2 separate regions of the Homo sapiens genome follow, and region 1 is linked to region 2. The links come from fine-mapping of genetic effects on gene expression. Tissue or cell type: whole blood. Region 2 holds a variant in brackets; the other region holds the start of a gene. All regions are shown on one strand. Distances are from middle to middle.

What was found. PIP is the estimated chance that this variant, and not a neighbour inherited with it, causes the effect.
Region 1: it holds the start of ARHGEF3, and the variant in region 2 is fine-mapped to the expression of ARHGEF3 in whole blood (INTERVAL, PIP 0.98).

The regions. Positions count from the first base shown.
Region 1 is chr3:56,798,709-56,806,852 of GRCh38, reverse strand. It overlaps ARHGEF3 (Rho guanine nucleotide exchange factor 3), which reads left to right and starts at 4,904. Exons shown (of 10, transcript NM_019555.3): 1 at 4,904-5,150. The coding sequence starts at 5,055. RefSeq lists a silencer at 4,735-4,904 and an enhancer at 7,269-7,318.
Region 2 is chr3:56,756,408-56,764,608 of GRCh38, reverse strand. All of the region lies in intron 2 of ARHGEF3 (Rho guanine nucleotide exchange factor 3), which reads left to right. Among named protein-coding and RNA genes, the nearest start is that of ARHGEF3, 41 kb to the left of the region's middle. RefSeq lists an enhancer at 780-1,657. The variant T/C (reference allele first, on the strand shown) is at 4,640.

The DNA.
Region 1 (8,144 bases), 42 kb before region 2:
AGGACAAAGCATTGTCCTGTTGGCTGAGAAGGCTGTCACAGCCATGTTAGCTTCTGGTTTTATCCTCAGGCTAGGCCTGCTCTGCTCCCAGTCATGGGACTGGGATTTAAGGAGTTGACAGATGGTCTCCAAGCCATGCCTGGTTGTCTGCAAGTCTAAAAGGAGCTAATAACCAGTGGTGGGCTTCTGTATTCAGGCCTACCATTCCACCAGCAGCCCAAATGACCCCCGCTCAACACAGGCAAGACCACAGGCCCTGTGCTTGGCACAGTTCCTGCAAATGCAGAACAGCCCTCTTTATTTCAGTCTCCAGGCTTCTGGCTGGCAAGGAACACTGCCCGGCTGTGAAGCATTTTATAGGATTATAACGGGCTATGCCGAAGGCAAGTTCTGAAAGACACTTTGTGCCGTTTCTTTGAGTGAAGCTGCCTGTTAGAGCAGTGTTGTTCCTAAGCCCGTAAACACACACACAGGCAGAATGGGGAGCTCTGGGCTCCTGGGGCCACTTAGCTTGGCGGCATTGCAGGACTGGACCAGCTTCCCTCAACTGTGACACTAACCTTAGGGATATGCTTGGAGGCCCTCCTGCAGGGGTGCCTGTTTTCTGACAGTCTTTGTTCACGGACACCCCCAGATAGTGTCTCAGGCAGATTGCCTAAAACCCCAATCTGTCAATGGTGGAGCAGTGCATTACATATGGGGAAGGTGCTGAAGTCAGGGACCAAGGTGGAAATTGCATGAGGTCAGAAATACTCCTGAAATAGCTAATCCTGACCTTAACCTATATACTGATGGAAGTTAAAAAAAAATACTCCTGAAAAATTTGTTAAATGCCTCAAGGACCATATACATGGCTTGTATGCACCCCAAATTGCTGGCTTGAGTTTATAGGCTTTGTTGTACCAAAAATATCTGTATTTAAACACCAGAATCCTATTCTGGATGGTGAGACATTCGTGCTATAAGAAGCTTGGAAGAATCAGACCACCCAAGAGAATTCCAGATTCCCATCTTTCCTTTTGTAGCTTATGCTTTTTTATAGCACTATTTAAATTGTTACAGGCCATTAGTAATCTCTCTGCCTCTGTCTGTCTCTCTTTGCCTAGCATGTATAGTGGAAAAGAGGTATGTTTGTCATATATATGTTGTGTAGCCCTGTGTATTTATTGATTTTTATGGCTCCAGTATATTTTAAGGAAAGCAAAGAAATGTTTTAAGAGAAGATGGATACGGCAGCCTTCTCATCAATCAATATGACTGTTCATTGCTCTGCAATAGTTGTGCTTCAACCTAAGTTGCACTTTAACATTTCTTCGGAGGCCAGGCACAGTGGCTTATGCTTGTAATCCTAGCGCTTTGGGAGGCCGAGGTGGGTGGATCACTTGAGCTCAGGAATTCAAGACCAGCCTGAGCAACATGGTGAAACCTCATCTCTACAAAAAATATAAAAATTAGCTGGGCGTGGTGACGTGTGCCTGTAGTCCCAGCTACTTGAGGGGCTGAGGCGGGAGGATTGCTTGAGACCAGGAGGTTGAGGCTGCAGTGAGCCAAGATTGTGCCACTGCACTCCAGCCTGGGCAACAAAGTGAGACCTGTCTCAAAAAAATAAAATAAACATATTTCTTAGGGTTTGTTTACTGTTACACTGGATTTATGGTATGTCAGACTCCCTGCTTGGCCCTAAGGATACTGCAATGAGCAACCCAGTCCCAGGGCTATCAGACGTCGCCAGGGTGACTATTTTCTTCACCAAGTGCTGTAAGTATATTTTCCAACTTGAGAACACGGCCCAGCAAGCTCTTCTGGGAGTCAAAGCCAGTGGCTTTGATGGCAAATGTGTTCTAGTTGAGATAGTGGACTGTGAGGGCCAGAAGAGCAGGCAGAGAAAGAGGAATAAGAAGTGGCTCGGGTACTTGGGCACAGGTTCTTGGTGGCCAGACAAGCCCTGAGTGACGCATGTCACTGCCTCTGGCCCTGCCTTTGGCTGCATAGTTAATCAGGGGCTACTTGGAGATGAGGTTACTCTCACACCCCCACCAAGCTTGGCTAAGCTTTTGGAGCACTTGTGTGAGCTCCCCATCAGCACAGCTCAGGCTAAAAGGATAAAATTGTGTTCAGGAATACAAATAGGAAAAATCAGTGGTTCTGAGGTGCTCTTTCCTGCCCCATACCTCTTCTGAGACAGTTTTCTTCCTATTGCTTCAGGTTATCTATCGAGGGAAAAAAACTCAGGTGCTCTCTTCAATTTCAGTTGGAACCTCCACCCATTCAGGAGCTTCATTTACATGTGTGGTAATAACAGGCTGGTTACACAGGGCCCAATTCTTTCTGCCTCCAAAGGCAGTTTGTCTGCACTAGCTGGGTAGGAAAGTAAGTGGATTTAGTGTGAGGGTGTGGATTTGATACCTGGGATGAAGAGCTATGTATTATGAGGTGTCCTGCCTGAGAAGTAGGAACTGCTGGGTTCTGACCTCAGCTAGAAGCAAAGAGCACGCAAACAGGGACTGGATATCACCATTCCCACTATCCCCTGCATCCCCAGGAAGTAAAAACAAAAGATAGTGTCTCCATAGATCACCACCTGATGTAGTCATGACTTTCCACATGAGGAGGAAAAAGATTCAACAGTACAGTCTACAAAATAACTTTTGAGAGATGATCATTTTAGGGCTGGGCATGGTGGCTTACACCTGTAATCCCAGCACTTTGGGTGGTTGAGGCAGGTGGATTGCTTGAGCTCAGGGGTTGGAGACCAGCCTGGGCAAACATGGCAAAACCCTGTCTCTACAAAAATACAAAAATTAGCTGGGCACACTGGTCCAGGCCTGTAGTCCCAGCTACTTGGGAGGCTGAGGTGGAAAGATCACTTGAGCCCAGGAGGAGAAGGTTGCAGTGAGCCAAGATCATGCCACTACACTCCAGCCTGGGCAACAAAGCAAGACCCTATCTCAAAAAAAAAAAAAAGAAAGAAAATATGATAATTATAATATTTTAAAAAACTATAATTTCCCAAGAAGTGCCATGAATGAAGGTATTTTTCTTTTTTTCTCTTGAGACAGGGTCTCACTCTGTCACCAGGCTAGAGTGCAGTGGTGCAACCATAGCTCACCACAGCCTTGAACTCTTGGGCTCAGGAATCCTCCCACCTCAACCTCGGGATTAGCTGAGACTACAGGCATGCACTACCATACCTGGCTAATTTTTAAATTTTTTTGTAGAGGCAGGGTCTTGCTATGTTGCTTAGGCTGGTCTTGAACTGTTGGCCTCAAGCCACACTGCTGCCTTGGCCTTCCAAAGTGTTGGGATTACAGGTGTGAGCCACTCTACCTAGCCATCTTTTCTTTTTTCTTTTCTTTTCTTTTCTTTTTCCTTTCTTCCTTCCTCTATTTCTTTCTTTTTTTCTTTTCTTTTTTATTTTTTCTCAGGGTCTCTGTCACCCAGGCTGGAGTGCAGTGGTATGATCTTGGCTCACTGCAACTTCTGCCTCCCAGGCTCAAGTGATCCTCCCACCTCAGCCTCTGGAGTAGTTGGGATTACAGGTGTGCACCACCATCCCTGGCTAATTTTTTGTATTTTTTTTGTAGACACAGGGTTTCACTGCTGCCCAGGCTGTATTTTTCTTATAAAAAATTTTAAAACATGAGCTATAAGCTTAAGTCCCTTTTGTTCACTATCTTTAATTCTTTAAACCCAGGTGCCTCCCTTCAGCCACAGGGGAACTGGTAAAAGCTTGCTGTGGATTCTTGTAGACAGTGTTCAATGCTATTTACCCACAAATATGTCTTTATAGAAAATATATGATATTCTTTGGTAAACTTGTATTTTTTTTTAACACAAATGGTATTGTATTATGCTTAGTCTGCAATTATTTTTAAACTGAGTCTAATACATTGGAGATCTTTCCATGCCACACCCATAGACCCATCTCCTTTTTCACTGCTGCTAAGCGGTATTACACAGTGAAGAAAGTTTATTTAAGCACTCCCTATTGATGGATATATTACCATTGTTTCCAGTTATTTTTTATTTTTTACTGCCCCAGACAGGGCTGCTGCAAACAACCTTAAGATCAATCGCCTTCTTGGGCATTTATAATGTCATTGTTTCTCCAAAAAGGATCCAGAAAGGTGTGGTAGTGCCAGGTCATCCATGCACAGCTTTATACTTGAAGGACACTCTGTCAGATTGCCCTCGAGTGTCAGGCAGCCTCTGAATATGCTAGTCAAATTTAAAAGTTGGTGCAAAGTGGGAAAGGTCTCGAGGGAATTTTCCGGGGGTGGTGGAAATGTTTCGTATACCGACTGTGGAGGTGGTTATACGGGTGTTTACATTTGTCAGAACTCAACAAACGGTACTCTTAAAATGGGTGCATTTTGCCATTTGTAGATTATATTCCACTGACATTCATTTAAAAAACCAAACAAAAACAAAACAAAACAAAAAAAACGTGCAGTGGCCTGGGAACAGGGTAAGAGAGAACACCACCCCTTTCTAATGTGGGCTTTTAAAACGCTCGCTTTTCCCCCCAGGCTCCTTCCTGCCTCCAGGTGTCACTACAGCCTCCTTTCTCCCCGTTGCCCGGTTTCGCCCCAGCCTCCTTTCTACCAGCAGCCTTTCACCCGGAGAGTGCCAAAGAGCCCGAAAGGAGCTATCATGGGGTCTGCCTGCCCCGCAATCGCGGCCCACGCTCTGCGGGGGCGCCCGGAGTCGAATACCAGCGGGGAGAGAGAGGTCCCTCTCCACCCGCGGGACCGCCCCACGCCCCTCGCAGCCCCAGGAGGTGTCCGCGCTGCGGCACGTGGGCCCTCCCGGCAGCGTGGGGCGGTGCCGAGCCGGCGGCCCGCCCCCTCCCCACCCATCAAGGCGTGGCTGGCACGGTCCCGCCCACTCGGCTCCGGAGCCCAGTCGAGTCCTGCCCGGCTAGAAGCCGGCTGTCGGTCTCCGTGTCGCCGCCGCCGCCCGGCATCGTGGAGCTGGGGCCCCCTTTTGCCTGGGAGTTTTGTAGTCGCCTAGGGTCAGCGGTGACATCCCAAAGGGCAGGCCCGGCAGCCGCCATGGTGGCCAAGGATTACCCCTTCTACCTCACGGTCAAGAGAGCGAACTGCAGCCTGGAGCTACCCCCGGCCAGCGGTCCGGCCAAGGACGCTGAGGTAGGGCCGCGCCCTGCACCTGGACCTCTATGGGTCATCTGCCTGTCTCGTCTGCCTCCATCTCCCATTCTCGGCGCCCGTCCAGTGTCACTGTCTCTGTTTCCATCTCTCACTCTCCGTGTGTGCCACTTTCTCTCTCTACATCTCTCCCACAGTCTTCTTTGTGTCTCCCCGTCGCCATCTCTCACCCTGTCTCCTTTTCTCTCGCTTTTTCTCTGTGGACCAAGCACTAGCTGCCTCCTCTCTCCCTGTCCCTCTACCTGCCGGTCTGGGAGCAACTGCCTCCTTGCCTTTGCAGGGCTCTCAGACTGTCCATCTTCTGTCTGGACTCTCAGAGGGACTTTCTCCTACTGTCAGCAAGCCCCAGTGTCAGGGAAGTGTCAGCAAGCCCCAGTGTCGCTACCCTTTAAGCGAGTTTTTTTTGCCTGGGTTGTGAGAGCAGAGGGACGTACCAGCCCTCTCACCTGTCAGACTTGGCCTTGCAGCCCTTTGGCAGCAAAAACAGGACACAGCGCCTCTGCCTATCACCTGTGGCCAGTGAGGGTCATTCAGCCGGGGGGCTGGGGCTAAATGAGTAAATTGGAGTGTCTCCCACATGGATCTTGAAAATGAATTAAAGTCCTTAGGGTCAATGGAAAGCTGCCTTGGAACATTGGAAACATTTCTCTTTCTGGGAACTTTCCTGTGCCTTGCGGGCGATGTGAAGGAGTGCTCCCAGGTTATGTTTAGTCTGCCTTTTCCTCTTGCGTGTTATTTCTCTGGCACATAGCTCACTGGCCTTAAAGGTTGGGTTCAGCTGGAGGAGAAAGCATCCCTCTCTTTGAGGGTCTTAGGGAATACAGTCGCTTTCGCTAGATTACAGCTTTGCTGTGGTCAAGCTGCGGTGGAACCCACAGGACCCAGCTAGTCATTGCCGCTCATGCGTGTATCTGGGAGCTTTCCACTCTCCCACACCTCACTCTGCGAACATCAAACATCACCACCACCACTGGGGAAAGGCTGAAGGCAGGTGTGCATCCGGCCTTGTCACAGCATTCTTGAGGTTCCACCCACTCGCCTTCCTTGGGTCTGCTCAGCTGTATGCACTTGGCTCACTGAATCATGTATATTCGGGAGCACACCATCAAAGATTCATTTCCTCTAGCAAGAGCTGCTCCAGGCTGACAGGACTCCAAGCAGTCTCTGGTTGTATTCAGCTTTCTATACGCTGAGCACAAACTAACTTCTCCCTCACTCAAACCCAACCCTACACTCCAGCTCAGTCGAATATTATCACAAAGAGTTTTTGTTGCCAGCAGCTGTGAAAGTGTGATGGCCCTAGTGGCATTTGCATAGAATTCAGGTTGGTCAGGCCTGGAATGGATATAATATTTTTTCAGTGGGAACTTCCTAATTTAATCAACATAGGAGCAGCGCAATTGGTGCCCACTCAAACTCCACTTGTAAGGAAGAAAGGCATAACCAATAAATTAATAAATTGAAGTGGGCCAAAGAAAAGAATAGTGAGGATAGCTGAGGACTCTAACCAGTCCCTTCCTACTATTACTTAGTCCTGTGTTTTTGAGTAGTTTAGCTAAAGGCTTAGGTAAAACTTGCCTGCTTAATTTCATTTTATTCTTATACATAGAATATAGATATGTCTATATATCACAAATATGAAACTTATCACATGTCAAATATTAATTTTCTTCATTGGTAGCTGGATCTAGACTATAAAATATGACTTATTTTCCTCGTATGGGGATATCCTGATGTGAGAAATAAGGAAGGGGTTGGAATAGTTTTGGAAATAGTTGGTAAATATTTTTCAGATATCACTATTGGGGTTTTTGTTTTTTAGTGTTTGATTTAAACACTAAATCAAGTATGCTTTATACACTTTGAGGCAGAGATATCTTTTAGCTTCATCGATGAGCATATCACTTCCTGATAATGGAAATTGGCAAAATTGGAAAAAGAAACCTAAGTGAGTTTAGTGGGTAGTTTTCTGGTTTCCTTATCAGCGCAAAAGGCAGCCAACCCTTGTAGGCCTAGCTTCTCCATAAGCAGTTAACTAAAATATATTTTCCACCAGTAGGTGTCGTCAGTATTCATAAATTAAAAAATAGCATTCGCTTGTCAGCCTTTTGAAAAACATGATTATATAATTGTTTATAAGCTAGGCATTGACTGTTAATTCCTCTGAAAGTATTTTTTTAAGAGTGATTGTTTTCTTTGTGGAAAGAATGTGGTTATAATAAAAAGAAAAATAGATCTATCCAGAGGCCTTTCTAGGAAAACAGGACTTGTTGACCTTCAAAGGCCGTTGCAACAGAGCACCTGTGCCCTTTAAACATTTAATGGCCGTGTGTAATGGCTGTTCCTTCCGAATTTGCCTTGGGTAGGACAGTGCACACAGCATGGCACTGGGAAGTGCCTTCTAGCATTGACTCCTATCCTTGCAGCAAGTGTACTGGGGAAAATCACTTAGGAAAAGGCTCCTGGGGAACAGGCAAGTGGCATTGATGTGCATTTGATACCGTACACTGAGTAAAAAAATATGCAAAAATAAGCATTCTCTTAAAAGCAAATAAAATTTCTACTCAAGATTTAAGTGATTTGTAATTTTTTATTTGTGGTAGTTTCCAGTGAAAGCAAAAAATGATATTTTTAAAATGTATTTTTATTTTCTTTAAAAGATCTATTTTAAGCTTTTGAAAATATTCTACAGGGATTATAATATTGCATGTCTGTTAGTATAATACTGCCTCTTAATCTGCTATTTCTTATGACATGGGGGTTTGAATTGGTTGGCAAATGTTTAATTTTAATATCCATAATCAGTGAGGTCCTGCTGGCTGTAATCATTAATTGTGAAATCTAAGGAGCTTAGTTCATGGCTCTAGAATTTCACAGAAAAATGTGATATGATACGAGCATTAAGTTTATTTCTTCTGATCTTTGATGCAGCTTTGTTCAGTTTATCTGTTTTTGTATTTATTGGTCATCTACTTC
Region 2 (8,201 bases):
TCATCACCACTTATAGGGAGAGATCTGAAAGTTTAAAATTGTACCCAAGGTCACACAGCTGGTAAGTGCCAGAGCTGGGATTCCGTAGGGTGTTCAGAGTGCCTCTCCTGCCGTAGGCTTATCACAAAAAGTCAAAGTTTGGTCATAATAAAGCCTGAAGTTTGGCAGGATTTAAAAATAGTCACCAGACTTTTGAGTTGGAGCATCCCACCTCACTGCTGTTCACCTTCTGTGGCAGGGAGAGTCATCATTTCCATTTCAGCTTGTGGAATATCTTGTCATTAACATTCTCATGCAAAAGCCATTTTATGGTGCCCAATGAAGATGGTTGAGCTACTGCCCCAAGCCTCTGGAAGCCTTCCTAATTTTGGACTTGCACTATGCAAATTGTATAATATTTTCTCTACACCTAAGCCAAATATTTTCTTCAGCTTTTCATTCATTCTACTCAGAATATCTCCAAGCTACAGAAGGGTTTCTTGTTGTACTGGGTCTTTGAGGTTTGACATTTATTGATTATGAATTAATTGGGTGCCCTTTTACCATGGTTTTAATGTGCATCAATCTGAATCAGATTGTAAATATGTGGTTTTATGTTTATTGCACCATTTCTAACTCAGTGTTCATTGTCTTTCATGTTCGTCAACTGACCGTGTTTCTTCTTAGTTAATATTTCTTCATTAAAGAAAGTCTGGAAAATAAATGTAGAGAATTAAAAGATGAAAATAAAAATCAGCCAGGTGCAGTGGCTCACACCTGTAATTCCATCACTTTGTGAGGCTGAAACAAGAGGATTGCTTGAGGCCAGGAGTTCAAGACTAGCCTGGGCAATATAGTAAGGCCCTGTCCCTACAAAAAAAAATAAAATAAAATCAAAAAATTAAAAATAAATAAAATTTTAAAAAGAAAACAAAAATTATCCGTAGTCCCACCATCCAGGGGTGTAAACCTTGTTAACATTTTGTTGTATTTCAAATTGGGATCTTTCTTCTCTCACTTAACTCTGCATGTGAGGCTCTCTCCTTATCATTAAGCTTTTCTCAAAAAGAATGTTTCTTAACAACTGTTTAAGGTTCCCTTTTATTGTTGCAGAGTAATTTGTTTAATCCCTATTGTAGAACATTTTAGGCTGTTTCCAGATCTTTTATAAACAACAGTGTCCTGCTGAGGGCTTTTCTTTCCCTAGGAGTTATCCTAATGGAAGTCCCTCTAGGAGCCATTTGGCCCAGGTAGTTCAGAAAGATGTGTCTGCTGTTTGCTAATTAATGAAAGCACGTATAAACAAGCACTAATAGTGGCAGTGTGGTCTGTGGTATGACAATGATAGGTAACTACCATTCCTGCTGACCGAGTGCCAGGGACTTGGCCAAGCCTCTTGTGTACTTTATCTTATCCAATCCTCACTACAACTTTGTGAGGTACTTATTATTATGCACCTTTTAGAGATGAGGAAACTGAGACCCAGAGAGATGAAAGGTCTCTCAGCCATTGAATCAACTTGAAGCCATGCCTGTTTTACTCCAAAGCCTATGTTCTTCACCCAAATCCATGTTTTGGAGTCAAACAATTGCACTCAGTTCCTATTCCAACACTTAACTTGTGCCACTCACTTACCACTCTGCTACTCAAATTACTCATCCTCTCCTAGGATTAGCATGAGGGTCAAATGTGACAGAGACCACACAGCTGGGAAGTGTTACTTCTCACTTAACATTAATTTCTGTAATGGAGCCTCATAGGAGACTCCTCCAGGATGCTGTTGGTTAACATTTTCCTGTCCTGGCCATTATTGCTGTACATTTTGGTTTAACCCACCGCAGTGGCAACATAGGAGAGTTTTTTCCTCTTACAGTCCCACCCCAACCTCCAATCCCTGATAATAAACCATCTGCTACAAAATAGCAATATGGTTAGCATGGTAAGTGTGGAGAATTTCCTTGGCTTGAATACTTTATTGGAGCATGTTATCTGTGGCTGTGGAAAATGGTTTTTGGAAAAGGGCAAGGGAGGACTCCGCTGAACAGGCGGCATTAACAAATCAGATCTGTCCCATCATGTCTACCTGCTGGGTTTACATTTCCTCTGACACGTGTAAAGCGCACATGCCACCCCCGTCCCCCAACCCCCGGCAGACAGTCTGTTTTGCATCTGCAGCATCTTTTCCACATATCCAGCTTGGGCATAAACTTGAGCACCATTTCCTCAATCTGCATTATCTCTGTTTTATGGTCATTGTTGTTTTAGCTGCCAGCAATTATGAGATTGCAGTTTTTGACTCATTTGCTAGGCCAGATTCCCTCATGGAAACTCTTGCTTGTCCTGGAATATTTTTCACTCCGGTCCCAGCATCCCCACACCCAGGGAGATCTATGTATGTGCTTCTGTTTTTATGTGGTCCTGCCCAAGGCCAGGTCCCTCACTTTGAGGTGGGCCTCTTCTAGTTACCGTGGACTGGCGTTTCTCACCCCAGGAACATTTGGCAATGTCTGGAGGTGTTTTGGTTGTCATAACTGGGCTGGCTGTGCTGCTGGCATCTGGTGGTTAGAGGGCAAAGATGATGCGAAATATCCTACAATGCACAGGAGAGCCTCCCACAATAAAGAATCTCTAGTCCAAAATGTTGTGGTGGCCAGGTTGAGAAACTTTCTACAGGCCAAGAAGTAAACTACAGTTCATTTATTTGGGCACATGTACCCCGCTACACTATGAATCTTATCCTAGGGCAATTAGGGTAGGATATTGGTTAAATATTGGGGCAGGGAGGTTGGCCTGAAATAGACCAGACTTGGATTGTCATTCTGACAGTCACCTTACCACCGGGTTTTAAATAATAAAGCACCATTCATTAGCTGTGTGACCTTCAGCAAAGTGTCACCTTCTCTGAGCCTCAAGTTTCCTTGTCTGTAAAGGGGACAGAATCCTTACCTCTCAGATAAGCAGGGCTCTAAAGCTCCCCTCACAGTGCCCAGCACATAGCAAGCATAACATTTAATCATTAAGCAAAAGTTGTTGAGGTCTTACTATATCAGTTGCTGATGAATCCATCAGTGAATAGAGGAGGTAGATATGCCTGCCTTCAAGGAGTTTACCTTCTATTGGAAGGAAATAGACATGAAAGAAACAAACAAACCTATAAATACAGCACATGTTGAATATAAAAAAAAAAGAGAAGGGCAGAGGGTGTGTAGATGGACAGTGGCAGGGATGCTGATAGGGATGTGGCTGTTCTTCTCTCTAAAGAGGCATCCTCTTGGAGTTTTTTTCTTCTAGTAGTAGTTGCCTGTTCCTCCCTCAACTCTAGTTCTCTCATGTAGTTTTTCCCAGTGGTACTGATGATGGGTTCAGGGGTAGCTCATGGTATGTGGTCAGTGCTGTTATGAACACCTGCCCATCACCCATGTGCTGTCCCCAGACCATACCAGCTGCTGCCCCTTTTCCCCGGGGCCAGACGGCTGCTGACCACTCACTGGTTTGGTATTCTTTTATTATTATTCTTTTTTATAGAGACAGGGTCTTGCTACATTGCCCAGGCTGGTTTCAAACTCCTGGCCTCAGGTAATCCTCCCATCTCAGCCTGTCAAATTGCTAGACTTACAGGTGTCAGTAACCTCACCTGGACAAATGGTTGGCATTCTTTATTCCTCCCTTGGGATTCTTCTTTCAACATCCAGTCCCTTCTGAGTGGAGTAAGAAAAAATGTTTCTTTTAATCCAGCCTAATTAAAGGTGTAAATTTGAAATTTGATTGGTCAGATATCAGCCATTATTCCTAAAACTGAGCAAATGTATTCTCTCTCTTTCCTTAAGTAGATTTATATTCCTAGAAGGCAGGAGCTGGATCCCATCTCATTGAAACTTCCCCAAAATGCATGTCTTGCATGTAAACAGTAGATGCAGTCCCCAAAGTAGAAAGAGCTCAGGCTCTGTTGGAACCAGATCTGGTTTTGAATCTTAGCCTCCCTCAACCTCAGTTTCCTCCTCAGTAGAATGGGAATAAACCCCCAACTTGCAGGGTGGTTGTGAGAATCAGAGAGAATATATCAGAAGTGCTACGTGTAGGCAAAGCGCATAAAAGACCCTCTGTGATATCCCCCATAGTACCCTGAGCCCAGCAATCACTAGGGAAACGCAAAGCAAGAAATTCATAGTGGTAGAGCTCACCTAGTACAGCTTACTGCTCTCTTTTTTCCCATGCCGCAGCAGAAGACAATCTCCAACTCTCTGGGAAATTTTTAAATAAATTAATTAAAATATGCTCAATCTTACCTTCAAAACACAAAACTGAAATTAAGGTATAGTTGTTTAACCTATCAGATTGATAATAATACCTTGTTGATGAGAGTGTGAGCAAAGTGTACTATTATGTACCTATCTGAGGAATATAAAGTTGAATAGCCTATTTGGAGGTCAACTTAGTGGTACATCTCAAACATTAAAATGTTCATACTTCTTAGACCAAGGAATTCCACTTAAGGAATTCCTGCCTTTTAGAAGTATCAGCACAAATACACAAAGCATGTTCACTGAGGCACTTTTTGTAATAGCCAGACACTGGAAACAATTTTAATGTCCATCAGTTGTGGATTGATTAAATCAATAGGTCTGTCCAGACTATGGGAGGGATACTAATTCTGCAGCCA[T/C]TAAAAAGAATACGTGAATTTGAGGTAATGGAAATGTTTTGGAACTAAATAGAGATGGTAGTTGTACAACCTTGTGAATATACTAAATAGCACTGAATTGTTCACTAAAAAATGGTTAATTGTAGGCTGGGCACAGTGGCTCATGCCTGTAATCCCAGCAGTTTGGGAGGCTGAGGCGGGAGGATCTCTTGAGACCAGAAGTTCAAGACCAACCTGGGCAACACAGCAAGACCCCATGTCTACTAAATCAAAAATACAAAAGTTAGCCAGGCACTTGCTTAGCGGTGGCACTCATCTATAATCTCAGCTACTCAAGAGATTGAGGTGGAAGCATCACTTGAGCCCATGAGTTTGAGGTTACAGTGAGATATGGTTGCACCACTGCACTCCAGTATGGGCAACAGAGCAAGACCCATCTCCAAAAAAACAACAACGAAAAAGTAATTGAGTTATGTAAATTTCACCTCAAGATACTGTCAAGTAGAAAGAGAAAACATTCTCGGCCAGGCGCGGAGGCTCACGCCTGTAATCCCAGCACTTCGGGAGGCCAAGGCAGGCGGATCACGAGGTCAGGAGATCGAGACCAACATGGTGAAACCCCATCTCTACTAAAAATACAAAAAAATTAGCTGGGCCTGGTGGCGGGCTCCTGTAGTCCCAGCTACTTGGGAGGCTGAGGCAGGAGAATGGTGTGAACCCAATAGGCAGAGCTTGCAGTGAGCCGAGATCGTGCCACTGCACTCCAGCCTGGGCGACAGAGCGAGACTCCATCTCAAAAAAAAAAAAAAAAAAAAATTCAGTTTTCTATGAATGTTAACAAATGCATGGAAAAAGTTTGGAAAGAGCTAGAACAAACTTAACAGTTGTTACTTCTAGGAGATAGACTTGGGGAAATGAGGGCATTTGTACTTAATTTTATATACTTTTGTAATGTATGAGAATTTAAAGTTAGCATACATTATTTTCAAACTGGTAGGGGGAGTTTAAAGTTAGCCAAGGACTGAAAATATAACAGGATAGGAGGTTGATTCTCTCAAGTGAAAGTGGAAACTTTCATTTTGAAGTTTTTGTGTGTGTTTCCTTTCTTTCTGCTCTTTAATTCTTAACTCAGCTGCCATCAGAACTGCAAACTGGGTTGAGCAAGTTACTTAATGACTCACTGCACTTGTTTTGACCTTTTAATGCTTGTGGCTAATTGATTCCGAGTGCTGGCGATCTGTGTGCATTTAGTTCCTGGTTACTGTTTACAAGGGACTGTTTTTAAGAGATCACAAGGATTTGTAAGATACCATTAGTGAACTGTGTATTTGGTGCAAGTACTTTCTTGACCTGCATAGGGCTGGTCCAGCCATCATGAGCTCATTAGTGAGCCCAGGAGCACCCCCACTACTTGTGCCAGCCTAAGGGGCTTGTGTTGCTACTTGCAGAGTGAGCGTCCTGCTTCCAGAAGGTTGTGGTAATACCCTGAAGCTCTTTGGAAGTTTCTTTTTACATTTTTCATTTATTCTTACATATATATCTATATATATTTTTTTAATTTAGAACTGAAATGAGGTCTTGCTACGTTGCCCAGAGTGGTCTCGAACTCCTCAGCTCAAGCCATCCGCCTGCCTTGGCTTCCCGAAGAACTGGGATTACAGACATGAGCCACCAAGCCCCGCCTCATTTTCTATTTTTTTTTTTTTCCTTTAGAGGGAGTCTTGCTCTGTCGCCCAGGCTGGAGTACAGTGGCGCAATCTCAGCTTACTACAATCTCCACTTCACGGGTTCAAGCAATTCTTCTGCCTCAGCTTCCCAAGTAGCTGGGATTACAGGCACCTACCATCACGTCCAGCTAATTTTTTTTGTATTTTTAATAAAGACAGGGTTTCACCATGTTGTTCAGGCTGGTCTTGAACTCCTGACCTCAGGTGATCCGCCCGCCTCAGCCTCCCAAAGTGCTGGGATTACAGGCGTGAGCCACCACGCCCGGCCATTTTAGACACTTTGGGAGGCCGAGGCGGGCGGATCACGAGGTCAGGAGATGGAGACCACCCTGGCTAACACAGTGAAACCCCGTCTTTTCTAAAAATACAAAAAATTAGCCGGGCGTGGTGGCAGGTGCCTGTAGTCCCAGCTACTTGGGAGGCTGAGGCAGGAGAATGGTGTGAACCCGGGAGGCGGAGCTTGCAGTGAGCTGAGACTGCGCCACTGCACACCAGCCTGGGCGACAGAGCAAGACTCCATCTCAAAACAAAAAAAAAAGGCTAAAAATATATAAAGGAGGACAGAAATCACTCATAATGTCAACATGAAACAACAATAGAATTTTGTGATGTTCCCTTTATATCTTTGCTCATGTGCATTTTTTGCATAACTATAAAATGTTCACATATAGATTTTTAATCCTGATTTTATTTTAGGCTACATAGAAGGGGTGTTTACATTTTAAATTATCTCTGAATTGTCTAGATAATATTCCATCCAGCAGGTAATTATAACTTTTTTTTTTTTCTGAGACGGAGTCTCACTCTTGTCGCCCAGACTGGAGTGCAGTGGCACGATCTTGGCTCACTGCAATCTCCGCCTCCTGGGTTCAAGCGATTCTCCTGCCTCAGCCTCCTGAGTAGCTGGGATTACAGGCACATGCCACCACGCCCCGGCTAATTTTTGTACTTTTAGTAGAGACGGGGTTTCACCATGTTGGCCAGGCTGGTGTCAAACTGCTGACCTCAGGTGACCCACCCACCTCGGCTTCCCAAAGTGCTGGGATTACAGGCGTGAGCCACTGTGCCCAGCCACTTACAACTTATTTAACAATGCCCTTATGTTGAATAGTTCCTTTTAAAATTTTTCTTTACTTTCTGGAATTTTATTGTTGAATCTCAAAATAACTGGGAACTACCTTAGAATGCCTTTGTGATGAAGGCTCATATGTCATAAGCAAATTCAATTCCTGACCTCAGGAAGTTTCTAGTTAAGAGCAGGTGACCAATAATTATAATCAAGTATGATCATTGCTATATCAGAAGTATGTCTGAATTGCTCTGGGGGAGGAGGATGGGAGAATGTTGGTGAAGACTTCTTAGAGGAGGTGCTGTTTGAGTTACATCCCGAGGGCAGTTAAGAGTTAGCCAGCTATGGCCGGACACAGTGGCTCATGCCTGTAATTCCAGCACTTCGGGAGGCCGAGGCGGGCGGATCACGAGGTCAGGAAATCGAGAGCATCCTGGCTAACATGGTGAAACCCTGTCTCTACTGAAAATACAAAAAATTAGCCGGGCGTGGTGGCGGGCGCCTGTAGGCCCAGCTACTCAGGAGGCTGAAGCAAGAGAGTGGCGTGAACCCAGGAGGCGGGGCTTGCAGTGAGCCGAGATCGCACCACTGTACTCCAGCCTGGGCGACAGAGCAAGACTCTGTCTCAAAAAAAAAAAAAAAAAAAAAAGCCAGCTATGAAGTGATGGAAACACATTCCAGGAAGAGAAGATTGTTTGAAGGGAGTACAGAGGGATGGCAAAGCATGACATATTTAGGGAATGACAGATAGCCTAGTATGGTTGGAGAAATGGAGGCTCATGGATGA